Linked DNA regions of Homo sapiens: region 2 is linked to region 1. A link means that fine-mapping ties the variant in region 1 to the expression of a gene that starts in the linked region. Tissue or cell type: whole blood. Region 1 holds a variant in brackets; the other region holds the start of a gene. All regions are shown on one strand. Distances are between the middles of the regions. Region 1 holds the start of ANO7 (anoctamin 7). Region 2 holds the start of PPP1R7 (protein phosphatase 1 regulatory subunit 7).

Region 1 (15,507 bases):
TCCATGACAACTCGTGTCCTTATAGGAGGAAGAGACCCCGGGGGTGTGAGGACACAGGGAGAAGGCGCGTCTGCAAAAGCCAAAAGAGAGGCCTCTAAGCCACCAGCCCTGCCTCACCCTCACCTCGGGCTTCAGCCCCAAGACTGTGAGAAAAGAAAGTTCTGCCATCTAAGCCCCGCAGGCCGTGGTACTTTTTTTTTTCTTGGAGATGGAGTTTTGCTCTTGCTGCCCAGGCTGGAGTGCAATGGCGCGACCTCGGTTCACCGCTACCTCCGCCTTTTGGGTTCAAGCGATTCTCCTGCCTCAGCCTCCCGAGTAGCTGGAATTACAGGCATGTGCCACCACGCCTGGCTAATTTTGTATTTTTAGTTTCTCCATGTTGATCAGGCTGGTCTCGAACTCCCGACCTCAGGTGATCCACCCGCCTTGGCCTCCCAAAGTGCTGGGATTACAGGCATGAGCCACTGTGCCTGGCCCAGGCTGTGGTACTTCTTATGACAGTCCCAGCAGACGAATGCACGCCTTCCAGCTACAGTGAATGACATTGCGGGTGTACAGATATCTCCCCGGGGCCCCCATCCCGTGCTCGTGGGCGCTCACCCAGGGAAGACATACTGGCTTTTACGGGAACTCTGTGCTGAATTCTCTGAGGAACTGCTGTTTTCCTTAGCAGCTGTACCATTTTACACTCCCTCCAGCAATGCACAAGTGAGCCAGTTTCCGCTCATCCTCATCAACACTTGTGATTTTTTTTAAGTAGTAGCCATCCTAGTGGGAGGAGGTTAGGGTCTCTCTGGTGCTGAGGGGACAGCAGGGTGGGCGGGGTGGGTGCTGGGAGCCCGGCTGGTGCTGGTGCAATCCCCTGGAGTCGGTGGTAGCTCCGGGCAGACAGAGGCAGTGGGTTGGGGGTGGATCAAAGAGATTTTGAAGGTACAAAAGGGGTGGAGTGCAAGAGATAAGAGTCAGAAATGACCTGAGTTGTGGCTGAACAGCTGGAGGATGGTGGAGGGGACTGGAGCAGGAGGGAGGGGGCAGCCCTGTCCACTCTCCAGAGCCCTTCCGGCCCCACCCCATCAGTAGGGAGCCCCCTTTCCTGCTGTTCTTCCCACTGTGGTTTGCTCACCCCGAGGCCCTCACCCCAGTGCCCCATCCCCAAGCAACTGGCCCCAGAGTGGCTACTGAGGAGGCTACCCCAGCCTGCTGCCCCTGGGGGCACCCCCGTGGTGTCCCCACCCTCAGGACCAACACGGGTGTGGTACAGGTGCTGGGAGGGGCTCACCGATCCGGGGCTTGGCAGGACTCCCAGCTCTGCAGGCGGCCGCTTGCTGTCCACCTGGCTGGAAGGCATGGAGGATGGAGAAGCATATCAGCATCAGCATCTGCCCTCGACAACTACACCCACCCCGCCCCACCCTGAAGCCGTCCTCGCCTCCAACCCGTCCCCGCCCTGCCCCAGAACACTCAGGACCACAGAAGAATGTTCGGCGGGTGGGTAGGGGGTGGAGGGGGAAGCCCCTCTGCTGTGTGGGGGCACAGGATGCGCAGGCGCGGGGAGCGGCAGGCAGGGCCAGAGGGCACCACCAGCCCTGGGCCTCCAGCCGGCTCCCCTCCTCCTTGGGCCAGGCCCATGGCAAGGGTCAGGTTGGCGGGAAGCATGGCCAGGACCAGGGGTGCCTGCCTTGCTGGCCTCCAGGGGCAGAGGGGAGCCGGACTGCTCCCAAAGGGGCCCTGAGGACAGAGTTGGCCATGGCGACCGAGAGTGTCTGGATGCTTGAGGTGAGAGGCCCTGTGCCCTCCCTGGAGGCTCATCTCAGCTGTGCTTGGGGCGGCAGGAAGGGGTCCCGTGTCCACCCGCAGGCTGCTGGGGCAGACGTGTGGCCCAGGAGAACCAGGAAGAGGGCCCTCCACGGCCAGGGCCTCCCGCATGGCCTTGAAGGCCCGGGACCCAGCCTCTCCCCACAGGCTCACAGCGCATCCATGGCCTCCTAGTGACAAGGTGGAGCCCTACAGATGGCCCTGGGTGCTGCTGTGGCCCTGCACTGACTGGGACTGACACCACAGGGAGGGCCCCGCCCTGGTCTTGCCTTTGCCTGGCCAGGCCCCCCTTACCCTCCTGGAGCTCCTGTCTGAACATCAGTGGGTTCTGCTCGGTTCTCCACAGCCAGGCCAGGCCAGGAGAGCGGTGATCTGACTGTGTGTGTTGAGGACTGGGTGGCGAGGGCTTGGGGGTTGCCGGGGGATGCAGGAGAAACACGGTGATGCCCATCCACCCCCAGAGGCTCTGGGCCCAGGGTGGGGGCATAGACCCAGGCAGGGGAGGACCTCTCAAGTCGCACCACAGTCTCCTGGGTGCTGTTACCTCCGAGGCGTGGGCTGTGCTCCCGTAAGAGCCCCTCTTCTCTGCCTCAGGGGGGCTCACATCGATCAGGACGGTGCTGTCCTCTTCCTGGGCCCGTCGCCGCAGCATCCTGCTCCTGCACCCAGCAAGGCCGGGTGGGGATGGGGGTCAGAGAGGGGATGGGTGAGACCCGTTCCTGGGGCCACCACACTGCCTGCAGTGAGCTCACTTTACAGACTCGACTCGGAGTAGAATGGGGCTGGGCTGGCTCGGCAGACTCTCCTGGCCATGAGCACATGGAGAACCCCCTAGCCAGCCACGAGCTCCAGGAAGAAACCAGTGCCGGGGCGGGAGCGTCTGGCAGGCCTGGCACAGCAGGCGTCTGTCTGTCCATCCAGTGAGTGCCCGTGTCCCCCAGCCCTGAATGCCGTCCACTCTGCCTGGGTACTCAGTGGAGCCTGAGAAGGCCCAGAAAGGTGGGCCTGGAGTACAGACACCTCTCCCTCTCTTATCCGTAGGGTGGAGCCATGTGAGCCAGGGACAGGAAACCCCTCAAGTCGCCTGCCTTCGCTCATGGCCTGAGGACCCAGTGCCAGGACCCATAGGCCCTGAGCTCCCCAGCAAGGCGGGCCTGATGGAGCCCGGCCTCACAACTCTTGGGGGTCCCAGCTTCCTCCCGCACCTTCGCCCCGGGGGTCTCTCTCTGTGGGAGGACAGGTGCCGTGGCTCCTAGTCTTGGGCTGGCAAAACGGGGCCAGGAGCACGACATCTGTGGCCCTGGAAGGAGAGGGTTCGAGCTGGGGCTGGCATTTGGAGCTGCGACGATGACCGGAGGGTGTGACCATGGAGGCGCCGCAGGAGGTCGGAGGGGCAGCCTTCTAGTTCTACCCTTCACTTCACATTAGCGGAGGCCCAGAGGGACAGAGACTGAGCCTGGGCCGCCTGCACCTGCCTAACCCTGAAGCCCGAGCCAGGTCTCAGTGTTAGGACTCGGCCCCGGCCCCAGGCTGGGAGCCTCACTACGGACTGTGGGGTGTTCCTGGAGGAAAGTCCCCGAGGAGTTTCGGCCACCCAGCAGCCCCTCATGCCCCCATCCTTCTGTGGTGGGCAGGCGGGCCCCTCCTCAGAGCTCTCTGCAGAAAGAATGGGGATGCCCCCCACCCCAACGAAGGGACCTGCTCCATGGGGGAGCCCCTGGGCAGGCAGGAAGCCAACCCCAGCTGGGTGTACCCCGTCCAGAGCCGCACTGAGTGTGTGTCCCTCCTCGTGCCCCAAGGGGCTTTGGGGACCAGGGCGGGCCCTGGCACTGCCTCCCCACAGGCCAGGGTGTGTGAAAGTCCCGGTGGGCTGGGGTGCCGCCCTGCCTCCCTAGAGTCCAACGCTCCACCTTCTCCCTGTGGCCCACACGTCTAGGCTGGGTCCCCACCTGGCACAGTGGCTTCCGGAAGAGGTCTCGGAGGTCATGGCCCACCTCTCAGCGTGAGCCTGGTCTCGGCAGTAGAGTCCCGTCCTCACTGCGGGACAGAGGGTGGGGAGGGGTGGCCCTTGGAGCCCCGCCCAGGCAGTGGCAGCCATTCGCATGCCCTCACCTTGCCTGCAAGTGGGCCAGGAAGCAGGCAGGGGAGGTGCCCAGCACAGCTGGCCAGGGCAAGGCTTCCCGGCTCCTGGAGCAGGATCTATCTTTGTTTAAATAGGGGGTGTGGGGCTCAGAGCTGCAGACAGAGGCAGCCCACTTGGCTGGGCTTTCACACACCCGCATGCAAATGCTGCCGTCCTCCTGGGAACCTTATTTGCTTAGAGATTTCAGGGCTGGCATCAGCTGTCATAGTTGCTGCCTTGGAGGGTCTCGAGGAGGTGGGATTCCACAGGAACAGCCACAAGTGCCACCTCTGCTGGAAGCCTTGCCAGGCAGACCTCGTAAGCTCTGTTTATGTGGGGGGAAACTGAGGCTCCTTGAGGTTACGTAGCATGTGCTGAGTGGTGGGCCAGGGTTTCACCCGGGGGCTGGGGAGATTGGGAGACCCAGATCACACTGCTGGCTCTGCTAATGCCTGAGGGGTGACCTCAGGCACATCCCATGCTCAGGGCCCCATCTGCAAAAGGACAGGAGGGGTCCTAGCCTTCCTCCCATCCTTTCCGCCCTCCTCCTCGTCCTCATTCTCCTCCTAGCCCTCCTCTTTCTCCTCCTAGCCCTCCTCCCCCTCCTCCTTTCTCCCCCTCCTCCTATCCTTTCTCCCCACCTTCCCTCTCCTCCTTCTCCTCCTATTGTTTCTCCCCCCTACTCCTCCCTCTCCTTCTCCTCCTATCCGTTCTCCCCTCTCCCTCTCCTCCTATCATTTCTCCCCCCAACTCCTCCTCCTCCTCCTCTTTCTCCCCACTCCCCCTCCTCCTATCGTTTCTCCCCCTCCCCCCCACTTCTCCCTCTCCTCTTCCTTCTCCTCCTTTCTCCCCACTCCCCTCCTCCTGTTTCTCCCCCTCCCCCCACTTCTCCCTCTCCTCCTCCTTCTCCTCCTATCCTTTCTCCCCGCCCCTCCTCTTCCCCTCTCCCTCCCCCTCCCCCTTTCCTCCTTGGTGCCTGGCAGTGTCTGAGAACCTACCACCCGTGCTCCTCGCCCTCCATGCACAACTGCACTGGGGAGCCCCAAGCTCAGCTTGCTGTTCCAGGTGCCCCCTTCTGCCTGTTGAAATCCCTCCAGGCGGACCCTCATCCTGGCTGCAGCTTTCCCTTATACCTATGCCCCTCTGTGCTTGGCACCTCCCAAGGGGCCCTGTTCTTGGACCTGTGTTGTGCCTCGGAACAGCGGGAAGGCCCTGCAGGCCGGGTTCCCTGTCAGCACCAGCAGAGCCTGGGCGGCAGGACCTTGGGGCCCTGGGCCTCAGGGCATCTGCATGAGAGGTCTCTGCTTGGCCAAGCTCAGCCTGCAGGCGCCTGAGGTGGATCCCTGGACGAGGGCTGGACTGGGGAAGTGCTCCAGAAACCAGGAAAGGAGTCGGGAGGCAGGAGGGGAGGGAGGATGAGCGGGGCACCATCTCCCCAAGACCTGTGGAGGGTGGCCTCAGCCTGCCATGGGCACTCTGCAGGGGAGGCAAGACGAAGCGTTTCCTCACCTGGATGCAACTGTAGGCTCTTACTCTGCTCAGTCATTGGCCAAGGACCCTCCCAGGAAGACATGCCACCTCCCAGGAGCTCCTGGCTCTCTGCTCTTGGTGACAAAGTGGCTCTGGTGGCCTCAGGGCTGTCTACTCAAGAGCTTCAGGGCCGGCTGCTGGAGGTGACCACACCCCAGTGGGAGCCCTTTCAGCGACAGTGCACGCACAACACCTAAAGGGGGTTCGGCCCTGAGGAGTGTCTTTCCATTTTTACTTCATACAACTCTGTTTGGGTGGGTGGTTTTTTCAAGTTGTGTTACTTCTGAGGGAAAGGAAGGAAGGGAGGGAGGGAGAAAAGCCGCAACCAGCACAGGGGGCCCGCCAGGTTCCAGGCCTTGGGAAGAGCCCAGGCCCAGAATCTGCTGCACCATCTTTCTTTGGCTGTAACATTTTTTTTTTTGAGACGGAGTCTCGCTCTGTCGCCCAGGCTGGAGTGCAATGGCGCCATCTCGGCTCACTGCAAGCTCTGCCTCCCGGGTTCATGCCATTCTCCTGGCTCAGCCTCCGGAGTAGCTGGGACTACAGGCGCCCGCCACCACGCCCGGCTAATTTTTTATATTTTTAGTAGAGACGGGGTTTCACCTTGTTAGCCAGGATGGTCTTGATCTCCTGACCTCGTGATCCGCCCGCCTCGGCCTCCCAAAGTGCTGGGATTCCAGGCGTGAGCCACCGTGCCCGGCTGGCTGTAACATTTATGGACATACTTAGGGTGTAGTTAGTGGAGGTGGAAGTGGTGGTGAAGAGCCCACACTGAAGTTCAGCCTCTTTCTGAGGCTCCTTCTGAGGCTGGAGGCGCGTGCAGGGCTCCCTCCATGAGGACCCTGGCACTGCGCCCCAGCCACATGGGAGCCCTGCTGGACGGACGGTGGCTGGGTCGCAGGGGACAGACTCTTGGATGCCTGCACTGCCCGCTTTCTAACCTTCCTGTCTGCAGGTGCAGCCAGCAGCCCAGCTTCCTGTGAGCGGCGGCTCCACACAGGCCACTGGCCCCTGGTGTCTGAGTTGCCCACTCTGGCCCTTGGCCTGCGTTTCCGTCAGGATTCCTGTCTCCTTTATTTGATGTGTGGGAGTTCTAAATGGTAAGCCTTGCCAGTTTTAAAAGCTGCAAACGCCTTCTCTTAATCTACTGTTGCCATTATTCAGGTATTATTCATTATTTTTGTTCTATGTAAAATTTTATGTAAATAAACCCATCAAAATCTTGTCTTACAGTTGTGTTTGTGGAGTTTTTTTTTCGAGATAGAGTCTTGCTCTGTTGGCCAGGCTGGGGTGCAATGGCGCAATCTCAGCTCACTGCAACCTCCACCTCCTGGGTTCAAGCAATTCTCTTGCTTCAGCCTCCTCGAGTAGCTGGGATTACAGGTGCCTGCCACCATGCCCGGCTAATTTTTTGTATTTTTAGTAGAGACGGGGTTTCACTATGTTGGCCAGGCTGGTCTCGAACTCCTGACCTTGTGATCTGCCCACCTCGGCCTCCCAAAGTGCTGGGATTACAGGCATGAGCCACCGCACCCGGCCTTGGGGAGTTTTCTCTACTGCTAGCTCACATATCCGCCTTCCCACATTCTTTTTTCTTTTTTGGGGGTGTGAGACAGGGTCTCACTCTGTCGCCCAGGCTGGAGTGCTAGTGGCGAGATCTCAGTTCACTGCAACCTCTGCCTCCCGGGTTCAAGCGATTCTGCCACCTTAGCCTCCCGAGTAGCTGGGACTACAGGTGGCTGCCACCACGCCCGGCTAAGTTTTGTGTTTTTTTAAAGTAGAGATGGGTTTTCACCGTGTTACCCAGGCTGGTTTTGAACTCCTGAGGTCAAGCAATCCACTCGCCTTGACCTCCGAAAGTGCTACGATTACAGGCACGAGCCACCATGCCCAGTCTCCCACATTATTTTCTACTGATTTCCTATTTCACCACCGCCCATGAATCACCAATTGCTCTGGAGCCTATCCTGTGTGTGATGCCAGGGAGGGGCAGTGTTCATTTTTCCACATAGTGCACTCTGCCAACATCATGAGGACACTGTCCACCCCTCCCCGACCCCCGGACACTTTTCCCAGTCCCCGAGTCCCCTGGGTTCCTGCTGAGGTGTCCCTGTCTTGGTGCTGTTAGGTCAGGCCTCCCCCCACACTCTCACTGTGGGTTTGCAGCACTCAGGATCTGGTAGGAAAGCGTCTCTCCCAGCTCTTTTTCAAAATGAATTGAATCACAATGTTGACTTTTTTCTTCCATATACATTTTAGAATTTGTCGGGCACGGTAGCTCATGCCTATAATCCCAGCTTTTAGGAAGGCAGAGGTGGGAGGACAGCTTGAGCCTAGGAGTTTGAGACTTGCCTGGGCAATATAGCAAGACCCTGTTCGCCAAAAAAGGAAAAAGAAAAAGCCGGGCACGGTGGCTCACTCCTGTAATCCCAGCACTTTGGGAGGCAGAGGCAGGTGGATCATGAGGTCAAGAGATCAAGACCATCCTGGCCAACATGGTGAAACCCCGTCTCTTCTAAAAATATAAAAATTAGCTGGGTGTGGTGGCATGTGCCTGTAGTCCTACCTACTCAGGAGGCTGAGGCGGGAGAATCGCTTGAGCCCGGGAC[G/T]CGGAGTTTGCAGTGAGCACAGATCGCGCCACTGCACTCCAGCCTAGCGACAGAGCGAGACTCTGTCTCAGAAAAAAAAGGAAAAAAAATTAAATTTTAGAATTTAATGTGTCTCAAAAAATCAAATGGTGGCTGGGTGCGGTGGCTCACCCCTGTAATTCCGGCATTTTGGGAGGCTGAGGTGGGCGAATCACCTGAGGTCAGGAGTTTGGGACCAGCCCGGCAACATGGCAAAACCCCATCTCTACTAAAAATACAAAAATCAGCTGGGTGTGGTGGCGGGTGCCTGTAATCCCAGCTACTAGGGAGGGTGAGGCAGGAGAATCGCTTGAACCTGGGAGGTGGTGGCTGCAGTGAGCTGAGATTGCGCCATTGCACTCCAGCCTGGGTGACAGAGAATGACTCCTTAAAAAAAAAAAAAATCAAATGGCATTTTGATTAGGATTGTGCTGGATTTAGCATACCTTTCCTCATCACTTCCACATTTTTTGTATGTTTGTAAAAATGTCTGTTAAAGAACAGATGGCTGGGTATTAATTTGGAGCCTTTTAAAACTTGAGACAGGGTCTCCCTCTGTCACCCAGGCTGGAGTGGGTACAATCATGGCTCACTGCAGCCTCGCCCACATTGGACAGTACGGTTCTAGAGTCCTGGTTCCTCAAGTAGACGGTTCTAGAGTCTAGAGTCCCGGAGGCAGAAGGGACCTTGGTGACCACATGATGTGGCCCTCATTCTGCAGGAGGAGAAATCTGAGACCCTGGGAGGTGACGATGCCCTGGTAGCATTAAATCCAGACTTCGGGTGTCTGTCAATGTACATTTTATATTAAAAAAGCCAAAATAACAATGGGGTGAGAACAGGAGGCCACTATACCAGTGGCCAAGAGTTCAGATCCTTGGAGGCCGTCTTTGGAGAGGCTCAATGGGACTCGTATTCTGGCAGCAGCACAGCACCGTGTGGGACACAGGACACCCTCCCCACACCTGAGCTTTCACCCACAGGCAAGGGATGTGGCGAGAACTGACGGGCACACGTGAAAACAGTCAGCCCTGCCCGGCGCTCTTTGAAGGAGAGCTCTAAGGAACACAAGCACACAGGGCTGAGTCAGCTTTTACCCAGCTTTTTTAACTTACCTAATTTTTAAAAAATTGAAAATGGCTGGGTTAAAAGACTAAAAAACCTCGGTTGTTGCAGGTCAAGACTGCCTGAACCCTGCACACCAGGACTAGGGCCAGCTAGGCCAGCCCCCGAATGCCACTCGGACAGCACGTGAATGCCTGTAAAGCACTCTCAGGCCCTGTGTTTCACACGACTCAGGTAGGGACTGTGACTGCCTTCTGAGAGAAGGAAACAGGGATTTCTAGCGAATGAACGCAACGTGTCTTATGTTCTCTCTGTGGCTACAATAACTGTCAACAATCACCCAGGAGGACAGTGTGGCAAGATTTAATTGCAACGGCATCTGAAAATGGTGTGTGACGTCGCGCGCGCCAGCTATCGTCAGTGCCTTTATTGCCATTGGGTTTGTGACTGTTGATATAGTGACGACCTCAGGAGCAACAGGTGGGTTAAAAACCCGTGGCTGGGCAGTTCTTCCGAGGAGAGGGACCACATGAGGAGCCAAGAAGGACTCAGAACCTGACGAACGTGGCATCGATCTGCCGCACGGAGGGGAGGGCGAGCATGACCTTCCGCCGGTACTGGGGGTCCTTCTGCAAGGGGTTCCGCTCCAGGTACACTGTCTCCAGGCTCCTGGCTCCCTTCAGCTCGTCGAGGTCGCTCCAGCTCTCAAGGAGATTGTCGTTCATCTGGGGACACACACAGCAGAAAAGCCTTTAGAACCAAACAGCCCAGCCCTCGACTCTGGTGGGGTCCACTAGCCACCCTCCTCCTTCCCACTCAGAAGATGGCGAGCAGGTGTGGGTCTTCCCTGGCACCTCATGGGACCTTCCATGGCCTCTTGGTGCATCCTGGCCACCTTCAGCTGCATCCCAAGTACAAGTTACCTGTCCATAGCCAACCCTGGGCCAGTCACTATGACGGGGCCAAGTCCACATTCAGGTCAGCAGAGGAAGGACAAAGCAGTTCTGGCCACCTGCCTGCTACACTTGTCCATAGGCAAGTGTCAAAGCAGGGTGGGCTGCACTTTCTACAAACCAGTTCTCAGCCATCATTCCCAAGGCTGCACTCTGCGCCATCACTGTGACACAGCAGACAGAGGCCGCTCTACTTAAAACTCTCAACTCTTCTGTAAATTACCTCTATGGCTCTCTCCACAAGGAAGTCCCAGCTGCTGCTTTCACCCAATACCAAGTGCAGGGACACAAATCGTGAGCAGGTGGGATTCAGAGGTCTGAGTTGCAGGCTACATTTTACCATCTTGGCCCTGCCATGCCCAGTTGGAGGGACCTGCCTTTGGCAGGAAGAGTTCTCTTGCATTTTTTTTTTTTTTGAGACAGAGTCTCGCTCTGTCGCCCAGGCTGGAGTGCAGTGGTGCCATCTCCAGAACAAGGGGAGCCAGTCCAGCTTCAAACCCTGTTGGTCTGACCCTCCCTTTCAAACACCCTGTGTGTAGAAATCACATGTTCAGAGCTGCCCGGCCTCAGGGCCTGCCAGGCAAACCGCGGTGGCAAGAGCACGGGCACTGCTCCTGAAGAGGCAGCTGGACTTGACTGTGAACCTACAATGGGCACAGGCAGGGGCACTCGTTATAGGGTGACAGACTTCGACTCCTTTTACAGGGAAGTTAGGAAGGGAACTGTCCATGTGGAACGGAAGGCAAGCAGGGGCGTTCTACTCTGGGGCCCACACTGCCCACTGCCCTGCCCACAGCTGTGGTCCGACTGGGGGGTCCCTGCATGGACTTCTGGACCTCTGCTCTGCACAGCTCCCCTTCTCTCTGGGGCCCTGTCTGGCACACTCTAGCTGCCAGAGATGTTGATCTCTGCCTCTTCCACTCAGAAGTACTGTGTTCTGCTTGGGAAACATCCCAGGTAAGGAGTGGGGTGATCACGGGGCTCGCGCTGGAACTCCCTCCTCAGAGCCTGCAGGTGCGTGCTGCCTGCTGTCCACTGCCTGAATAGAGTTGTTTCATATTTTTCTATCTGTCTGTGGCAGGAGGGCTAGTTTTGCACCAGGTCCACTGTCACAGCCAGGCTGTCTTTAGTAACTTACCGTGTGTCAGGGGCTTCCCAGAGAGGAATATAACGTGCATCTCACAGGTTTGCCTGTTTGAGGAACCCTATTTTCTTTTTTTTGAGAGGGAGTCTCGCTCTGTCGCCCAGGCTGGAGTGCAATGGGGCAATCTCTGCTCACTGCAACTTCCGCCTCCTGGGTTCAAGCGATTCTCCCACCTCAGCCTCCCAAGTAGCTGGGATTACAGGCACTCGCCATCATGCTCGGCTAATTTTTGTATTTTTGTAGAGATGGGGTTTCACCACGTTGGCCAGCCTGGTCTTGAACTCCTGACCTCAAGTGATCCACCCGCCTCAGCCTCCCAAAGTGCTGGGATTACAGGCGTGAGCCACTGCGCCTGGCCTGAGGGACCCTATTTTCACAGAACCTTTTGTGGGACTAGTGCGTACCAGCCTTGGGAAACCAAGAATTCCAAATCCTAGAGCTTAGCCCTTGAAGAGGGACTGACACCTGCTGGGAGGAGCTGCACCACCAGGGCTGGTGCCCTGCTGCTGCTGTCCCGACCAGTGCCTCCATGTGGACGGGACGTGAGCGTACCTTCTTAAATGCTACTCTGTTACTACACTCGCACCGCCCCGCTGGTTGTGTGGCCAGTGCAGAGCCTGCAACACTAGAATTACAGGGGAAGCCATCCACCTGCCAGGCCTGTGATTGGCCGGTCACTGGTCAGTTAACAGAAAGAGCCCCTTAAAGTGGAGAGTCACGAAAATGATGCACACACACGCCTTAAACCAAGCTTGTCCAACCCACGGCCTGCAGGCTGTAAATGGCCTAGGATGGCTTTGAATGAGGCCCAACGCAAATCTGTAAGCTTAAAAACATTTTGAGATTTTTTTGCGATTTTTTCACTTTTTTTTTTTTTTTTTTTTTTAGCTCACCAGCGATCGTTAGAGTATTTTATGTGTAGCCCAAGACAATTCTTCTTTTTTCCAGTGTGGCCCAGGGAAGCCCAAAGACTGAACACCACTGCCTTAACCACTTCTACCACAAAACACACAAAAAGGACATTCATTTAATGAAAGTAGCAATATCACACTGTTTGGAAGAAGTAAGATTTTCTTGTAGCATAGTCTATTTAAAAAATGATTCAAAACACCACTGGCAGTTGACTCAGGCTTTCAGCTCTGGCGTGGGAGGTCTTCAAGCTGTGTCACCTCCTTCTTTCTCGATATGTGATGTATTTGTGTTTGTCACACACCAGATGCTTCTTGTCTCACACATCACAGCATTTTCCAATGTCATTATTAGTCTAGATGGGCGGACCATCTTTATAAATTGCAGATGTTGTAATTTTCCATAGCACTGCCAATCTCAGAGCAGTTTTCTCCAGGACTTAGTAAACCTAACACGGGGAATTCTACTCACCACCAATGGTGCATTGTAAATAATGTGTAAATAATGTGTTTGATACTGGTAACTTTCAGAGATTCTTATCTTTGCATTTTTCCAAAATGGAACTAAAAACATTCACTTGTATGAGACTCTGTCTCCATAGACATTCCAGAGGCTCCTGAATCCCAGGATGGGGCAAAGATGTTACACTCATCATGGAAAAAAGATGACCTTATGTTTCTCTTATCAAGTTCTGCACACTGGGGCTGTCAGGGAGCCTGGCTGGGGAGCGCGGGCACATTCCTTTCCCCCAGAGGGACCACTTCAGTCTCTTCTAATCTTGAGCACCTCCCATGTCCTTCTCACACTGTTTTTTAAAAACTAAAATTGGCTTCTTGAAGAACTGTCTTGTAAAGTATCCCTCACTGTCATTTAGCTTGTTCTTCTAGCTCTTACACTTCCCATAAACTCAAAGTTAGGTATGAATGCTTGGTTAGATCAGACTAAACATTTTTGGTAGGTATACTGCACAGATGACTCACACTGGGGACACAGCACTTCAGGTGGTCCCACAATTAGGGATGCTAAGTTTTATCATGCAGATCAGCTGGTGACCCCAGATGACTCTGGGAACATGCTTTCCCTTTGCAATTAGCGAGTTCTCTGTGGCATGATCCTTGGGCCTGTGTGCAAACATCCCTTCTTCAACATCCTTCCCAGTAATCTCAGCAGCTGATCCCTTGCCCGAACCAACGGCTGGGATTCTGCTAGAGAACATCTTCTTGGCTGACGTTTTCCTGGCAGACTCTTTTGGTTTTTGGAACCCAAACTTGCATTTTGTATTTATGGGGTTTTCTATCTGTGTATTTTGCATATACATACATAGGATACCTGTATTTCCCTTCACAATTTTTTTGGCTGATATTATAGAAAATTCACATTAATTACCCCAAACTCAGTAATGTTTTAAGCAAAAGATGGGTAGAATTCTTAAGATACATTTCATAAACAACTGGTAGAATGTAAAAATCACTTATTTTCTGAAAATCTCCATGACAGTTTAACAAAGGAGATGCGTGACACAGGCACGGCCCATCAAGAGCCGTCCGTGGGGATGGTGAGGCTGCCAGACACAGGCACGGCCACATCGAGAGCTGTCCGTGGGGATGGTGAGCTACTCGGGAGGCTGAGGCAAGAGAATCCCTTGAACCCGGGAGGCGGAGGTTACAGTGAGCGGAGATTGCGCCACTGCACTCCAGCCTGGGGGACAGAGCCAGACTCCGTCTAAAAAAAAAAAAAAAAAATTAGCGGAGCGTGGTGGCGGGCACCTGTAGTCCTAGCTACTCGGGAGGTTGAGGCAGGAGAATGGTGTGAACCCAGGAGGTGGAGCTTGCAGTGAGCCGAGATCACGCCACTGCACTCCAGCCTGGGTGACAGAGCCAGACTCTGTCTCAAAAAAAAAAAAAAAAGCTGAAGACCAGTGACAAAGTAAAGTATCTGCAACACAGATGACATACTAAGGTTTAGTATCATTCATTGATAGAATCTCTATAAGTTAATAATAAAAGGGAAAATGCACTGGACTAAAGCTAGCAGAAAGTATCAAGAGGGAACAAAAGGACAAAGTGGTTGAAAACAGAGGCGCCAGGGTTAGACTCATCTGTAATTAAAGGAATGCAACTGAAACCTAATGAAATGGCCATCACTAGACTGAAGGGGAGCAGAAAGTGGGCCCAGGCCAGGCACACATGCTGGGAGGGAGGCACACAGCCTCTCCTCGAGCAGCCCCTACCTGTGCCCCCCGCTCCTTGCAGCTCACACCCAGACAGCCCTGGGTCAGGGGTGCCAAGCTGGCACAGGCTGCTTGTGCAGGGCGCTGCCTACAGGAAAGCATTCCATCAAGAGGGCTGAGGAAGCACAGCTGTGGCATGGAGCAGGCCTGCAATGTAATTTAAATGGCATCACTTGGCTTAAACGAGCGGGCAGCATCTGCCAACAGAGCATCTGGGAGGGTCCTGGGGAAGCCCCTGTGCCAGCAGGGCAGTGGGCAGATGGGCTCCATGCCGGCATCAGACACCATGAGGGTGGAAACTTTCCTGCCAAATGTTTCTCCTCCCCTGGCTACTGCCTTTGGTCACTGTGATGCTACCTTTCCCCTGGATTACTGGGAAGAGGGTGGGGGCCTGAGCAGGGCAGTGCTGGTCTCAGCCCACCCTCCAGGCCCTGGATGTCAGCTTGAAACAAGTCGCGTATGGCAGGGGCGGGATGCATCATATTGGTGAACTGTGTATTGCTATCCTCCACCTATTTTTCTATTGAATCGCTTTCTTTCACTTTAAAGAACTTTTTGTATGTCATAGAAAATAACCTTAACCTTAACCTCTCAGGCGACCAATGGACTCTTTCATCATGCAAAATACATACGCTTTATAAAATTAGATATACCTATTCTTTCTTTTTTCACTGATTTTTAAATCTTGGTTAGGAAGCTCTCTATGATTTTTTTTTTTTTAAGGTGGAGTCTAGCTTTGTCGCCAGGCTAGAGTGCAGTGGCACAATCTTGGCTCACTGCAACCTCTGCCTCCCAGGTTCAAGCGATTCTCCTGCCTCAGCCTCCCGAGTAGTGGTGACTACAGGCGCGTGCCACCACATCCAGCTAAATTTTTGTATTTTAGTAGAGACAGGGTTTCACCATGTTGGCTAGGATGGTCTCGATCTCCTGACCTGATCGTGCAGTGGCACGATCTTGGCTCACTGCAACCTCCGCCTCCTGGGTTCAAGCAATTCTCCTGTCTCAGCCTCTCCAGTAGCTGAGACTATAGGTGCATGCCGCCACGCCTGGCTCATTTTTGTATTTTTAGTAGAGATGGGGTTTCACCATATTGGTTAGACTAGTCTCAAACT
Region 2 (15,507 bases), 33 kb after region 1:
AGGACATGTCTTCATTCTCCTGCTGTTTCCTAGAAAGGTGCTGACCTTTGAGAGGCAGGTGGGCAAGGGCACTAAGCTATAATTCCTTAACACACCTGAGGAAGGGCGGGAACCCAAAGGGAGGCAGGAGGCAGGCTCCCCACCAAGCAGGCCAGTTGGGGAGGGAGGCGTTGGCCTGGGGTGTGGGTGTCTGCCACTTCCTGGCAGAACATAAGAACCTTTGGTGGGCTCAATTTTGACAAATTCCAATGAGAGGCACGGAGGACTGTAAAAGTCAGCGAGTGCCTAATTGAACACAGGCACAGAAACCGAGGCAGGCCAGAGTCACAGGTCACTGGCTGCCTGGGCTCAGGAGAGCCAGCCCCAGGGCTGTGCCTCAAGTCCCTCGACTGCTGTCTCACACCTGCTGTGCTCCCAGTAAAGAAAGGCCTGCTACAAGGTGGAGGCAGCCACGCCGCCCACAGGCTGGGACAAGGACCACAACTCAGGACTGACTGCTCGATTCTGGACTTATCCACATCCTATGGGTGAGCGTCATAGTCCCCTCATAAGAGTCCCTCTCACCTTCACTTTCTTCAGTACCTCAAATCCTTCAATCTTCCCTATGCGATAGTGATTCAAATCAACATCCTGAAACAAAGCAGAAATCTATACTCAGCTATAGCAAAGTGGCTGGAGACCTGTGTCGTCCTAGAAGAGGCGGCCTGGAAGTGGGCAGCAGTGGGGGAGGCAGTGCCAGGTGGGTCTGCAGCAGACAGATGTCAGTGACAAGGTGTGCTGCGGGGGCTCTTTGGCTTAGTGATGACTAAGTTTTATGTAAAACTGGCCCTTAAAATGATTGGTACATGACATCTTTTTCTCATTCCTTAGATCCTGTATGCACAAAACATAAGCTCAGGTTCTGAGGATATGCACCCCATCCCATCACCATCAGAGACACGCTGTGGGCTCAGGAGGCCCAGTGGCCAGTCATACACAGCCTGGGGCCATTGGGACCCTCATGTATAATGTAATCATCAGACCCAGACAATGTATGAGTCAAAGGCATCTCATCTGCCACACAATCCTCAAGGGTCGAATAGACATGGGGATAACAATCACTGGTAAGAAAAACATGAACACGGGACTCTGACTCAACCAAGGGAGGCTTAGGCCACCTCTCTAGGGAAATAACTTACTAATCTCATACAAGATAACCTGACAGGGTGGTCCATCACCACGCCCAAGGCTGGGCTGAGCAGGCGGCATTACCTCTGCATCTCTGTCCAGGTTGATGGTTTCCATGTCCACAGGCAGCTCATGTTCTTCTGAAAAAATAAGAAAAAGAGATTTGTTCAGAACCCCATTAACAGGAGGCACTGGTGAAGAGCTGCTTCTGGCTGAGGTCTGGGGCTGTTTGGTGCCCAGAGCCAGCTCAAACCCCGAGGAGGAACCAATGGGAAGGTTTGCTGAGGACCTGGAGAATGTGGCAGGGTTAGACCCTGCTCCAACAATAGTGATGTTTTAAGCATTCTGAATTTCCTGAATTCAGATATTGGCAAAGGTCACCAAACATCCATCTGTGCCTTTGAACTTCCTGAGAAAGGAAATGTGTTTTGAACCTGTTAGTGGGAAGGAGGGGAGGAAGTAGCTGAGTGCAGGTGAGCAGGGTAGCACTACTGCCTTTCCGTGACTCCCAGAGCTGCAGAACTGGCAGCAGCCTGCCTCCCATGTAGCTTTTCTCTTTTTGTTTGTGGCAATAAACCAGGCCATTAGAATCTAGACCATGCTGGGCACATCAGATGCTCTAGGATGGGCCTTTTATTGCTTTGGAAGGTGGCCCAGCATCTACAAACACTTCCCTCTGCAAAGAGCAAAACAAAACAAAACATAGTTCAACAGATAGGATCAAAGAAGCTCACTGAATAATTTAAACACACTTCTCAGTGGGGAGACTGGTGAACTCACTCCAGCAGAGAAGCCCATTGGATTTCACGAGGACTCTCTACCCCGGAGCCGGCATCCTCTGTGCGGAGGAGGGAGAGAGCTGCTCTCCCTGCTGAGGCGACAGCTTCCCTGTTAAGCACTTCCTCATTTCATTTCATTGGAACCTACTTCAGCATGTGTGCTGAAAAGGACTAAGACACACACAGATGCACACACACACGCATGCACAAAGACACACAGGCACGTATGCACACTACACAGACACACGCATGCACAACAGTGGTATACACAGACTCATGCAGACACACAAACACGCACACTCACCCCTCAAAACACTTAAAAAAATTAACAGTAATTCCTCAATATCACCAAAGATTGTCAGTGTTCGTATTTCCTCAACTGTCTTAACATTTCTTTCCTTAGTTTACTTGCATTATGATCCAAATAAGGCTGTATATTGTGACTAGATGGTATTTCTCTTTTAAAAAACTTTTTTAAATTAATTTTTTTTTAAGAGACAGGGTCTCACTCTGCTGTTCAGGCTGGAGTATAGTGGTGTGATCATAGCTCACTGCAGCCTTGAACTTGTGGGCTCAAGCAATCCTTGTCTTAGGCTCCCAGGAAGCTGAGACTACGGGTGTGTGCTACCATGCCTGGCTAATTTTTTAAAACCATGTTTTGTACAATCAGGGTCTCGCTATGTTGCCCAGGCTGGTCTGGAACTCCTAGCCTCAAGTGATCCTCCCACCTTGGCCTCCCAAAGTGCCAGGATTATAGGCACGAGCCACTGCACCCAGCCCAGCATTTTTCTTAAATTTCTTTTTTCCCCTTGCAGTTTTCTGTTGTAGGAAAACAAGCTGTTTGTCTTGTAGTGCTTCTCCCAGTCTGGAGTCTGTGAATTATATGCATAGGATGTTCTTTCTCCTGTAAACAGATTGTCATTGTCACTACCTTACAGGGCTGTCAGTGCTGTTACTGTGGCTCTTCCTAGAGCAAACGTGCACTTGCTTCTGCAGGGGAGTGAGCTCACACAGCCCTGGACCCCATGCCAAGGGCTGGCTCCTCCAGCCTGGCTCCTCCTCTCACCTGGAGGCCTCTGAGAGGAGCACCTGACATCAGACCAGCTTAACAAAGTCATGATCCCACATGGTTGCATTCACTTCATTGTTTTCCACTATGCCTTTTCTATAACCATCAACTGTGGTTAGTTAAAAAAAAAAGTTTACTATAGTTTATCCACAACTGTAAAGGATACCAACCTAAGAATTAAATAAAAGGAACTGGGCAAAACCAAGAGATAGATAACAAATCACCTCAAAAGACAGTGTCAAGTCACCGTTCATAAACTCAGGAAGTTGCACTGGAAGAGGTGCTACAATTAAGGCAGGGCGCCCAGGTCATGTAGTCCAAACCAGGACCCTTTGAGAGCAGAAGGGCACAGTTATGCTGGGCCAGCAGGCAGAAACGGGCTGTGCCAGGCTCCTCAGGACACACGGTCGCATGGCTTTAAGGGGTCTTGTTTGTAATACAGCCAGCAGGGCTGGCCGCTCACCACTCAAAATGTCAGCTAACCTCTGAAACAAGGTTTCCAGCCTAGAATGCCCTTCTGAGTGTATTATATATTCATCATATTTTAAAAATAATTTAAGGAAAATAGGTAGAAGGTAACAGTTGACATGATTAAATTTGTTTTAATTGAATTTAAGACTTAAATAAATACAGGTAGGAGCAAGTCTTGGCTCCTCTAAGGGCTAGAAATGCATATTCCCAGAAAATTCATAATCAGCTAATCATCTCGAAGAAAAAACTTGGATTTTTCCAGGCCAGGCCAGCTGGTCTGCCTTGTAGCCGTGTGCCCTTGGACAAGCTGCAGAGAGTCTCATTTTCCTCATCTATAACACATTACCACACTGGTGTACTTACAGAACATGATGACAACATGATTAGCCTGTGCTAGTGAGCCAGGGAAAGAAAGCACACAAGGCTTGCTCTGCCAACTCTCAAGTCCTCCATAAACACCCAATGTCTCAGCAGCACCCATCTGAGGATAGCGGGGGCTCCTACCGCTCCACTGTTGGTGACTAAGTCAGGCGATGACGGAAGCTTCCATCTATCACTCCCATGCACTTTATTCCACCCACATCACTTCCAGAACATCAGCCTCAAAGTTCCAAAGTGAATGTGACTGGTACTTTTGTGGTAATCTCCTTGTGACTTAAAAGTAGGTTGCCATAGTTACCAATCATCTTTGCTGGCACAGAGAGCACAATGTTATTTTAAAAATTAGGTTTGTTTCTTCATAAATTTATTTTCATAAGGGATGCATGATTATTCATACACTGTATACAAATCTAGAAAACACAAAATGTATAGATCCTTCTTAAACCTGCTGTTTGGACAGACTCAGCCCGTTTGATGTGTTTTCTTTCTTTAGCAGGTAAAAGTACATACATGCATGCATACTGTTCAGAAACTTTTTTGTTTTGAGATGGAGTCTCATTCTGACCCCGGCTGGAGTGCAGTGGTGTGATCTCAGCTTACTGCAACCTCTGCCTCCCTGGTTCAAGCGATTCTCCTGCCTCAGCCTCCTGAGTAGCTGGGACTACAGGTGCACACCACCATGCCTGGCTAATTTTTCTTTTTTTCTTTTTTTTGTATTTTTAGTAGAGACAGGGTTTCACCATGTTGGCCAGGCTGGTCTCGAACTCCTGACCTCAAGTGATCCACCCGCCTTGGCCTTCCAAAGTGCTAGGATTACAGGCGTAAGCCATTACGCCCGGCCACATCTAGGCACTTTAGAAGTCAATCCTCAGGCCTATAAAAATGGTAAGGCAAGACTCAGAAATAATTTCTCTCAGAGATTAAAGGTTTCTATTGCTATGGTAGGACATAGAAACACAGCAGTCAGCCATAACATTTATTTCGAATCTCATTTCCTAAACATATGGTTAATATAACAATATTGCGGTTCTTTTCTTTTTCCTTTTTTTTTTTTTTTTTTTTTTTTTGAGAAGGAGTATCCCTCTGTCACCTAGGCTGGAGTGCAGTGGTGTGTTCTCGGCTCACTGCAACCTCCACCTCCTGGGTTCAAGCGGTTCTCCTGCCTCAGCCTCCTGAGTAACTGGGATTACAGGCACACGCTGCCACGCCCAGCTAATTTTTGTATTTTTTGTAGAGACAGGGTTTCACCATGTTGGCCAGGATGGGCTTGATCTCCTGACCTCGTGATCCACCCGCCTTGGCCTTCCAAAGTGCTGGGATTACAGGCATGAGCCACTGCATCTGGCCAACAATGTCATGGTTCTGTCTCAGACGGCATACTAGTACCCATATTTGTGCTAGGATTTGCCTTCAGTGGAATTGGAAAAAACCACATCCTTTTTGCAAACGCCATCAATGAGTCAGCCTGCTGAAGGAGCACCTCAAAGAGCATATCCACCTGCCCTGGGCCACTGAGGACCCCTAAGGAGCACGGCAGTCCTTCTCCAGACCGACACAGCACCCACACCCAGGGCCAGACCACGTGCAGCACAGCCCACATCCCCCAACCAGCAGATGTCCCCAAGGGAGCTGGGCCTGGTACCTTCTGGGTCCTCCTCCCCCCGCTCCTCCCCATCCTTCAGGCTCTGTTCACTGAGGTCGGCCACGATGCCACTGCTGTGTTTCTTCCCTTCTTCATCGCCGGATTCTTCAGACTCGACCCGCCTGTCAACTGAACCCACACATGTCAATGAGAATTCACATCCACTTTATGGGACTTTGAGGAACATATAATAAACACCCGGTTGTAAGTCAAAAGGATTTCATTTAAACATGTTTGTTGAATCCAGTTCAACGAACATCTGAGTGTCTCCCATGTCCCAGCACCATTTGAGGCATATGGCCGCGGGGAGAATGGGGAGCAGAGTGTGGAGCCCACATGGATACTTAGGTGAGGAACACACTACTTCTGCCCTCAAGGAGCTTGTGAAGAATTGCCCAGTGTTCTGAAAGCCTTGGATCACCTGTGATTAAATCCACTAATGGAACCCGGTAGTGAAGCACCTCCTGAGTGCCTTTCACTTTTGGGCTGGGGGATCACCACTGTGACCCTTCTGCCACATACCTCCATCCATGCTCCACTATTTATCTGGCTAAGAAAACCAGCCAAGTTCACAGGCCCACGTTCTGAAAGAAATCAAGACTAACTCAAATCAGACTGTGGGCAGGGAGGATCACTAAGGAAAAGGAGAATACAGCCAATAGTGCTGACCGCCCACAGAAAGCTCATTGGTGTGAAATGAGCTTTCACACTGGACACTGGACAGAGTGTTAGCAACTTAAGGCTTTTAAAGGTTCATAAATATTTTTTGAATTAAAGAATAAGGCAATTCAATGTGTCAGGTAAAAATTCTTTGGTAAGGTTGTCAAATCATTTTTCTTTTTTATAACTTTACTCATGACCTCTTTTGGAAGTCTGTCTGGAAAACATGAGGCACTAACACATTACTTGGAATTATCAACCATACTGAAAATACTCTTTCCTGACTATGGTTTATCTACAAAGAGATGTGCTCTTTGAGGGAAAAAGTTCAACTTCATCTTTGTACTTCCCGCTTAGCCTAGCAAAGTAAAACCCAAGAAAGGATTGCTGTAGAAAACAAGTCCTTATAAAACCCACCTCCAAAACCTCCAAATCCATCTCTTCTTCCCTACCCCCGCAATGACGGTGGCTCACTTACTTATTAGCTGCAGCCTGGGCTCCTGCCCTGCCTCCTAACTCGTCTCTGTGACTTGTCTTGCCCTGCTTAACCTATTCTCCCCTGCCAGAGAGTCTGATCTAATTCTAAAATCCAAATCTGATCTTTTGAGTCCAAAAGTATTTCTGGAATGCTCTTCCTGAGTTTGCATCTTGCTGCTAGAGATGCAGCTTTGGCAAATCGTTTCCATTTGAAAGCCTCAATCTCCTAGTCTGTGGAAGGGAGCTAGTATAGCACCTATGCCTCAGCAAGTTGCTGTCACGGTTAAATTAGAAAAGGCACAAGAGCAGTTAGCACGTGCATGACATGCAGTAGATATATAACAAATTAGTCACCACCAGGCACAGGTCACTTGGTGGTCCAGGCTCAGGGAGAGAAAGTTCTACTGCATGACAATCTGGCACAAAAACCCCAGTAAGAGGAGGAGTGGTGTGAGGTTAGCAAAGGCTTAGCTAACGAAGGTTGGCCAAAGTGAAGCCTGAGGGCAGCAGAGAGGGTCTGGAACATGGGACAGTGGCTCTGCATGTAAGAAAATGACTTTGGTGTACTGGGGATGATGGGCTGGTGAACAGGGACAATCAATCTAGCCTAGAGATGATGAAGGTCTGAGTTAAGGTACTGGCAATGGGAATGGAGGACGTATCGGAGATTTGGAGATACTTTCAAAAGTAAAAGTCAGAGCTCCTTGACTAACAGGACATGGGTGGGAGTGGGACAGTGAGAAAAGCCGGGCTTTTATATCTGTCATTTACCAAGACATGGAAACAGCTGAAGAGGGAGTGGGAGGATATGAAGAGGCGCTTCTTAAAAAGACTCAAAGGGTATGAAGTCCAAGACCCTTAACACTACCGCCCCCATCCCCACCACATACGATTTGGTCAAACTCTCCTCCACACCTTTTGACAGCAGTTTTCTCCGTCTTGAGTGATTCTTGCTCTTTTCCCTCACCCTATCCCCAACCTCGTTGCCTTCGAGTTATTCTTCAGGCTCCAGCTCAGAGCTCGCCCTGCTTCTGCAGCTGTCACCACTCCCTAACATGTCAGGCCTTCCTGCTGCACCCGCCCTCCTTCCCCAGCTCCACATTCCTCTTCCCTACCCCTTTCACATAAGGCAGTGACTGCTCTTCTGGGAGGTCTGTACCCCTCACCAAACCATGGGACCCAAAAGTACTTAAGCTGATGACACAACTGATTCCCCAGTTGCTAAGTGGGTGTGTGCACGCATTTTTACACACATACTGTACGTGCACGTATATGACTGTACCTACAGATATGCAGAAAATTATAAACACATGTGTACGTATAACATATACATATATGCATGTGGTTTTTTTTTCCAACAAAGTGAATGAGGAGGAAGAAAGTTGAATTCAGACTTTTTGGAACTATGACAGCTTTGAAAACAGGTATCACCTTGTGTAACTCAATCTTCCGGTTCCTTGTTACCCCTTCCCAACAGTCCATTCGATTTCAAGAGAAGACCCTTCTCCACCCTCACCACGTGAACCAAGGAGCAGACTCTGGTAGATCCCAGCGCCTCAGTTTCCTCGTCAGCTGACCGAGGAGGCTCCCCCGCCCGTCAATCTCAGAGGCTCGGGGCGAGGCTCCAACTGGACTGAATGGAGCCACCGCGTCCCATTCAGCCCCACCCCCGGCCTGGCCTCGCGCCGCCGCTCTCCCCCTAGCTCTGGGTCCTTCCCGGCCGCTGCCGCCCCCGGGCCGGGGCTCCCCCGAGGTCCAGCGCCTCCCCCGCTCCCCCGGGTCCGGCTGTCAGCTGTCAGGGGGCCGCGCGGCGGCGGCCAGAGGCAGGACGTGGAGTTTCTCTCAGGCACGGAGCAGTTCCAGCCCGCAGCTCCCCCCGCCCGCTGGGCCCTTGGGCCGCCGCCCGCAGGGGCCGCTCACCCTCCATCATCTCCTGCGACTGTTGCTGCCCCGCGCCGCGTTCCGCCGCCATGTTGGCTGCTCTTCCCCTTTCCGGAATCTGTCGCCTCAGACCCCTCAGCCAATCAGGGCTCCCGCCTCAGAGCCGGCCCTGCCAATGGGATTCCGGCGCGGCGACTTCAGCCGCGCCGCGCCTGCGTGGGCCCAGCGCCTCATGGGAGTTGTAGTTCCGTCATGAGGCCGCGCGCCGCGCCTCCCCCAGAGCAGGTAATTTCAGGCGGCGGAGCCGGAACAGTCTGGAGGCGAGAAGCTGGGAAGGAAAGCAGAGGGAGTCGAAGCGGGACGCACAGAGCCGTAGCTGCAGGCAGACGGAGTGGACGTCTAGGCAGAGTGGAGAGACGCCCTGGGCTTGAGAGTTGACTTATGTCACTGTCTCGACCTCGGAGGCGTGGAGGGGCCGCGGGCCAGGCGGATCTTTCCGTGGCTGCAAGGTGCGGGCCAGTCCTACGTGCATCCCTGACCTCTGCGAGCCTCGCTGGCTGCGTCTGTACAATGGGCCGAACGGCAAGAGCAACAACATTCTCCCGGCGTCCCCGCGCGGATTTTACCCATGCGAAATGCCGCCTTCTCTTGACGCTCGGAGCAGGCGGGCAGGTGCGGGGCACTTGCGCTGGTGGGGCCGCTAGCCAGCTGGCTGGCTCCGGGGCGCCAGCTGGGCTCCCCTTGCAAGTCGTTCCCAGCCCAGTGCGGACGCTGCAGCCTTCGTCTACCCTGCGGAGCCACCCGGCCCATGAACGAGCCGCCCCGCGTCCTCCGCCTTCAGAAAGAGGCCTCCAAGAGGCGAGCTCTGCGCTACTCACCCATTTTGATCGCGAGTCGGGAGGAAACCGCATCTGCCCGGCCCGGGGGCGGAGGCGCCCATTATTCCTTTGGCTCCTCCGAAGCGCCGTAGGGGTGTTTGGTGCGTCCCTAGCAACCCTTAGCGCGGGCTTCTAGACTCTGGCTAGCTTAGTCCCGCCCATACGCGCAAGTGGCTGGTCCGTGGAGCTTGTCAATCGGTGCTAGTCGCTGTGCGATTGGTCGGTGGGATAAAAGCGCGGAAGGGCTCCTTTCCGTGGTGTGTAGCCGGCTTGGCGTGACCCTCGCCTGATCCAGGTGAGATACCTGCGCTCGGGAGAGCGGGCCGGGCTCCGCCATCTCCCCAGGGCGGCTGTGGGGCCTGCGCGGCTCCGCGCCCCTGGCCCAGGAGGATCCGCCGCCCGACTCTTAGACCAGCCCGACCCCGGGTCTCCCGCCCCTGCGCCCGTCGCCCTTCGCGCACCGCCGAGCCCGCGTCCTCTCCGTGCCCAAATCGCGGCGGGGTTGCGGCCGTTGGCCCTGGGCCCCGCGCCCCCAGCGTCTTCGGGGTGCCCTTCAGTGTAGCCTGCCCGGTGGGCGCCGAGGCCCCGCGCCTCGGGTCGCCTCGGGACCCTGCGCTCTCTTCACCGCAGCCGGCCCTGCGGGGCGAGCTCCAGGAGAACCAGCCCGGATCCCGCCAGCCTCCTGCACTGGGCGTGTGGGTCCCTGCGGGCTCAGCCGGCGCCGCGGGGTCGGGGGCGCGCGCCGCCGGCGCTCGTGGTTACAGCAAAGACCTGGACTTGAGCCTTAATTTTTTCACTAATTTTTCTTTCCCAGAGTACGGCAGGGGCCTGCGCTGCCGTCTTGAGGCCTTTCTCGTCCTTACCTTCCGCATCTCAGTACCATTCGATGTCCATTTTTCTCTTAGGGGTTCCCTCTCTTCATCTTTCTGCTGCTACCTTAATTTAAGACTTTATAATTTCTTGCCTGGATTACTGTAGCCTTTCTCCTGCTTTCCAGCCTTGCACCGACATGGTCCCTGGAGTAATCTTTGTAAAATGCATATCTGGCCATGTTACTCCTAAGCATTGAATCCTTAAAAGTTCATTTTGGGGATAAAATTAAGACTTTGGGCAGGCATAGGAGGCTCTGGGCTCATGCTTGGCCCTTCCAGGCCCACGTCCACCTACTCTTCTGGGTACTGAACTCCTCTCTGGGAGGCTTTGCCTCTGAAAGACTTCTTCACTCTGCTTGGTAGGGCCCGGCTCTGCAGGTGCCTCCTCCAGGACTGACATCCTTGCTGTGTTCTACTGCACTGTTCACCTTGTTGGCCTCATCCTGAAACTGGTTCTCCTTTTTGTTGTACAGCTGTGCTGACAGCAATGGGAGCTGTTTGCTTCTTAGCTTATGTTCTGGTGGGAGGGGGACAGTTGCTTCTAGAAGTTCGCCGAGATGCTCCCTGCAAAGTTGTCCTTGCTTCTGTTTGGTCTGAGGTGGGGTCACTTGTGTCTTCTGGAATCAAAACTAGCAATGGGAATATGGTTACTCGGTGGCACCATTAGGTGCTGTCTGCTGGGTTTGGGTTCCCGTGTCTGCAGCTCACAGTGGATACAAAGGACAATTTTAAAAATTTGGGCCTGGACGTGCAGGTATTTCTGGTTAACGTCTGAGTCAAAATTTAGTGATCTAAGGTCATGTGAAGCCAGACTCTGTTCTTTCTTGAGGCCAGGCTGTGGCTGTGGAGTGCACGGGAGGCTCCAGGGGCCTATGCTGTTCAGTGACAAACTGGCCCACGTGGACTTCAGATGCCCAGGAGGCACAGCGGGAAAAAGGATGCATCTTTCCTGCTGTCCTCCCCGCTCCCGCAGAGGGTCCCATCAGTTTCCCTCCTGGATAGGCTTGTAACTCTCAGTAACCTAATTAAACTTCCACAACTTTAGTTGGTATTTATTTACTTTCTCCCATGAAGGACAAAAAATTGCATGCCCTTACCCTCCCTTTGCTTTTTTTCCCCCTTTCCATTTCATGTTAGTTACTTTTACAAAGAAACTTCTGTAACATTTACAATATATTCTGAATAGTTATATTACTTTTTTATTATTTTATTTTTTGAGACAGGGTCTTGCTCTGTGGCCCAGGCTGGAGTGCAGTGGTGCTGTGTCCTCTCACTGCAGCCTCCGCCTCCTGGGCTGAAGCGATTCTCCCACCTCAACCTCCCAAGCAGCTGGGACTACCAGCATGTGCCACCACACCTTGCTAATTTTTAATTTTTTTTTTGTAGAGATGGGGTCTCCCTATGTTGCCCAGGCTGATCTCGAACTCCTGGGCTCAAGTAATCTGCCTGGCCTCCCAAAGTACTGGGTATATGACTTTTTAAAATAGTTTTGTAACATTGACATTGCAGTCTGAAGAGTTATATTTTTTAGGAATTAAAGTTTTCTAACAATGTATTCTGAAGAGTTATATTACTTTTTTAAGAAAGTAAGGTTTTACAACATTTACAATGTATTCTGAAGCTATAATTAAGTGTCCTGAGCTTTGTCTATAGGTTGGTTCTAAAAGTAGAAAAAACTGCCTCACACTATAATCATGTCATTGTTATTTATTATGGCAATAATTAGTGCATTTGGATGCTTAGAGAAGGAGATGTAAACCTGTAACTAAAGGTCCCATTCATTGTTGCTGCTTGTAGGAAAGCTGCACACTCGAACCCCAAACCCTATATGTAATAGCTTCCTACACATCTGCAGGTTTGCAGAGCCTTTGCCTTCCAGGGTCCTAGGCTGGGTTTGTGTGTGAATGTCTCTGAATTTTTTGGCCGTATCAGTTTATTCATACAAAAGAATAAAGGCAGTGTTAGTCATGAATTGTACCAGCAGAGTGGATGCATTTGAACCCATCACCCTAGGAAATCAGGGGACCTGTGCCCTTGTGCCTCTTCCCCACTCTTGCACCTGCCTGACCCAGAGGGAACCACCTGCCTGAAATTTAGGTTTACCAGTCTCTTATTTAAGAAGTAGTTTAATTACATAGGTGTGTTTCCCTGAACTACTTATTTAGATTATTTCATGACAAAGGAATCCTCCTGCTGATTGTCTTCCGTAACTTGATTTTTTCCACTCGTATATGGCTAAGATTCACCCTTGTGTGTAGTTTATTTGTTTTCACTGCTGTAATTAGTGGTATGAATATACCAGAATTTAAAATCTATCTTCTTGTTAAAGAGTGTTTGGGTTTCATTTCCTTTTTTCCTCCCTCTCTCCCGCACTCCCTCCCTTTCTTCCCTCCCTTTTTTCTGCCTGTCTCTTTGCCATTGAGAACCATATTGTCCCGAACATTCTGGTGTCTTCTTATCTGTTTGCAAAAATTTCTCTGAAATATAAATCTAAGTGAAAAGTGCTGTATCCATATAGACAAATGTTTCACTTGAATTGTTTTCTAAAGAGATTATATTAATGTATTAAGAGTTCCTGTTGATCCAAATCCTTTTTGACATTGGGTATTACTAGATTCTTCATTTCTGCTGACTTAGTAGGTATAACATCATCATGATTAGGATTTCCTCTCCTGTAAAACGCTTGTTCCTATTTCTTGACATTTTTTATTGGGCCATGTGTCTTTTAAAAATGTTTAAATTTTAAATAGTTGATCTTTTAAAGCTATTCTGGATATTAATTTTCTGTTGGTTATGTATGTGGCAAATATCTTCTCCCAAATTGTGGCTTGTTCTTTCGTTTTCTTTATGGTATTCTTTGTGAAGCTGTGTTCTCATTTTTTTTTTTCTTTTTTTTGGGGGGGACGGAGTCTCGCTGTGTCGCCAGGCTGGAGTGCAGTGGCGTGATCTCAGCTCATTGCAACCTCCACCTGCCAGGTTGTGTCGCCAGGCTGGAGGGCAGTGGTGTCATCTCGGCTCATTACAACCTCCACCTCCCAGGTTCAAGCGATTCTCCTGCCTCTGCCTCCAGAGTAGCTGGGAATACAGGTGTGTGCCACCATGCTCAGCTAATTTTTTTTTTTTTAGTAGAGATGGGGTTTCACCACATTGGTCAGGATGGTCTTGATCTCTTGACCTCGTGATCTGCTTGCCTCGGCCTCCCAAAGTGCTGGGATTACAGGTGTGATGTGTTCTCAATTTTAACGTTAAACTTATTAATCTTATTTTATAGCTAGAGTTTTTTGTGCCTTGTTTAAGAAAACTTTCCCTACCCCAAAGTCTTACAGATAGCCTCTTTTCTCCTAAAAACTTAGTGATTTTATTTTATATTTTATTTGGTTTGACAGGTCTCGCTTTGTTGCCTAGGCTGGCCTCCATCTCCCTGGGCTCAAGCAATTATCCTGCCTTAGCTTCTAGAGTGGCTCGGACTATAGGTGCAGGCCACGAGACCTGCCTGGCTAAAAAGTTTAGTGTTTTGACTTCCACAGATCAGATCTTTTATGCCCTGGGCACCATAGTGAGACCTCATCTCCTAGTTAAAAAAAAAGATGGCCATGTGAAGATACATACAAACAGGGAGAAGTCGGCCGGGCGCGGTGGCTCACGCCTGTAATCCCAGCAGTTTGGGAGGCCGCAGCAGGTGGATCACGAGGTCAGGAGATCGAGACCATCTTGGCTAACACGGTGAAACCCTGACTCTACTAAAAATACCAAAAATTAGCCAGGCGTGGTGGCGGCTGCCTGTAGTCCCAGCTACTCGGGAGGCTGAGGCAGGAGAATGGCGTGAACCCGGGAGGCGGAGGTTGCAGTGAGCCGAAGTCGCGCCACTGCACTCCACCCTGGGCGACACAGCGAGACTCTGTCTCAAAAAAAAGAAACAAACAAACAGGGAGAAGCTCTGTGATGGCGAAGGCGGAGACTGGAGTGACGCAGCTGCAGGTCAAGAACACCAAAGATGGCCAGTATGGCCAGTAGCCACCAGATGCTAGGATAAGGCAAGGAGGGGGGACTCCTTGGAGTTCCATATTGGAAGAGGTGGTGTTGGGAGGGCCACCTCCCCTTTCCTCTTCACCCCAGGCCTGCCTTGTCTTGGAAGGGCCTCGTGTGGGCATCCTGCTAGCTTGTCCAAGCTCGCTATTCCTGGAAGGCTGCTCCTCAGCCAGTTCACGGCTATAGGTGTGCCAGTGTGGGAGGACCTGGGTGGAAAGAGGCCTGTGTGTGTCTTAGAAGTGGGCACCAGACCCTTTGGCTGGGAACTCTGGGGTTCTGGATACCCAGAAGGTGGTCCAGAAGAGGGTATATGGGGTGTGGTTGGGCTTGCCTTGGCCCCAGGGTCTCCTCATTTCGTGGGGGAAACTCCAGCCATGGTTCTGGTATTGGCCACAGCCTCCTCTTGCTGTTTATCTAAAGCCTGGATGACCAGGTGGGGGCTTCCTGCCAGTAGAGGAAATCTTCTTGCTTTAAGGGCTCTTTTTGTTGAGTTTGGCCATGAGGACAGGGTATTGGTAAATGTGTACTTGTGTTTCAAGTGCTTGCCAATATGCAGGATGGAACTCTTAAGTATCTCCACTCTGCAGGGTGGTCACATGAATGTATACATGTGACAAGACTGCATGGAACACGTGCTCACATGCGCGCACACACACACGCTCATGTACACATGTGCACACGCACACACACGCACGGACACACACGCACACCCACACACACACACACCTGCAGGTAAATGCCTTGAAATCTGGACGAGGCTGATGGATGGTATCAAGTCAGTTTCCTGGCTGTGACACTCTCCTGTAAGATGTCACCATGAGAGGGAACTCGGAAGAGTATGTGAGATTTTCCTGTATTTCCACCCTGTATCAGCATTTGAATCATGTATAAGAGAAAAGCTAAAAATACAAATCTCTGGTGCCAGGCCTGTCTCTAGGAGACATGGCCTCTTGGCCATGGCCCCCGCGACCTCACTTGTTGGCAGCACCCAGGTGATTCTGTGCACAGCTGGTCGGATGGTCAGGACTCACTGTTTAGGGGAAAGCTGAGACCATGGGAGCTGTGCAGCCCCCACGTGCTGATGGGTTCATCATGACCTGGGAGTATTTTCAGTTGGTGTGTACCTGCAGTCCCTGCCTTCCCTCATGGCTCCTTCCCACCCTGTTCTTTGTTTTCCTCTCTCTCTCCTTCCCTCTTTCCC

The links.
Region 2: PPP1R7 starts here. The variant in region 1 is fine-mapped to the expression of PPP1R7 in whole blood (TOPMed, PIP above 0.99).

The regions. Positions count from the first base shown.
Region 1 is chr2:241,177,024-241,192,530 of GRCh38, reverse strand. It overlaps PPP1R7 (protein phosphatase 1 regulatory subunit 7), which reads right to left. Exons shown (of 10, transcript NM_002712.3): 10 at 8,879-9,884. The coding sequence ends at 9,708. ANO7 (anoctamin 7) reads right to left here and starts at 3,854. Exons shown (of 25, transcript NM_001370694.2): 1 at 3,765-3,854; 2 at 2,360-2,474; 3 at 1,280-1,337. The coding sequence starts at 2,467. LOC105373971 (a long non-coding RNA gene) reads left to right here and starts at 4,109. Exons shown (of 3, transcript XR_924064.3): 1 at 4,109-4,255; 2 at 6,423-6,567. RefSeq lists enhancers at 1,281-1,781, 1,782-2,282, 3,216-3,899, 3,900-4,584, 5,780-6,302. The variant G/T (reference allele first, on the strand shown) is at 8,077.
Region 2 is chr2:241,143,607-241,159,113 of GRCh38, reverse strand. PPP1R7 (protein phosphatase 1 regulatory subunit 7) reads right to left here and starts at 8,647. Exons shown (of 10, transcript NM_002712.3): 1 at 8,567-8,647; 2 at 5,510-5,638; 3 at 1,252-1,307; 4 at 565-630. The coding sequence starts at 8,618. It overlaps PASK (PAS domain containing serine/threonine kinase), which reads left to right and starts at 9,642. Exons shown (of 18, transcript NM_015148.4): 1 at 9,642-9,700. RefSeq lists enhancers at 303-803, 8,856-9,015, 10,529-10,688 and silencers at 8,226-8,565, 9,696-10,055, 10,116-10,175, 10,226-10,275.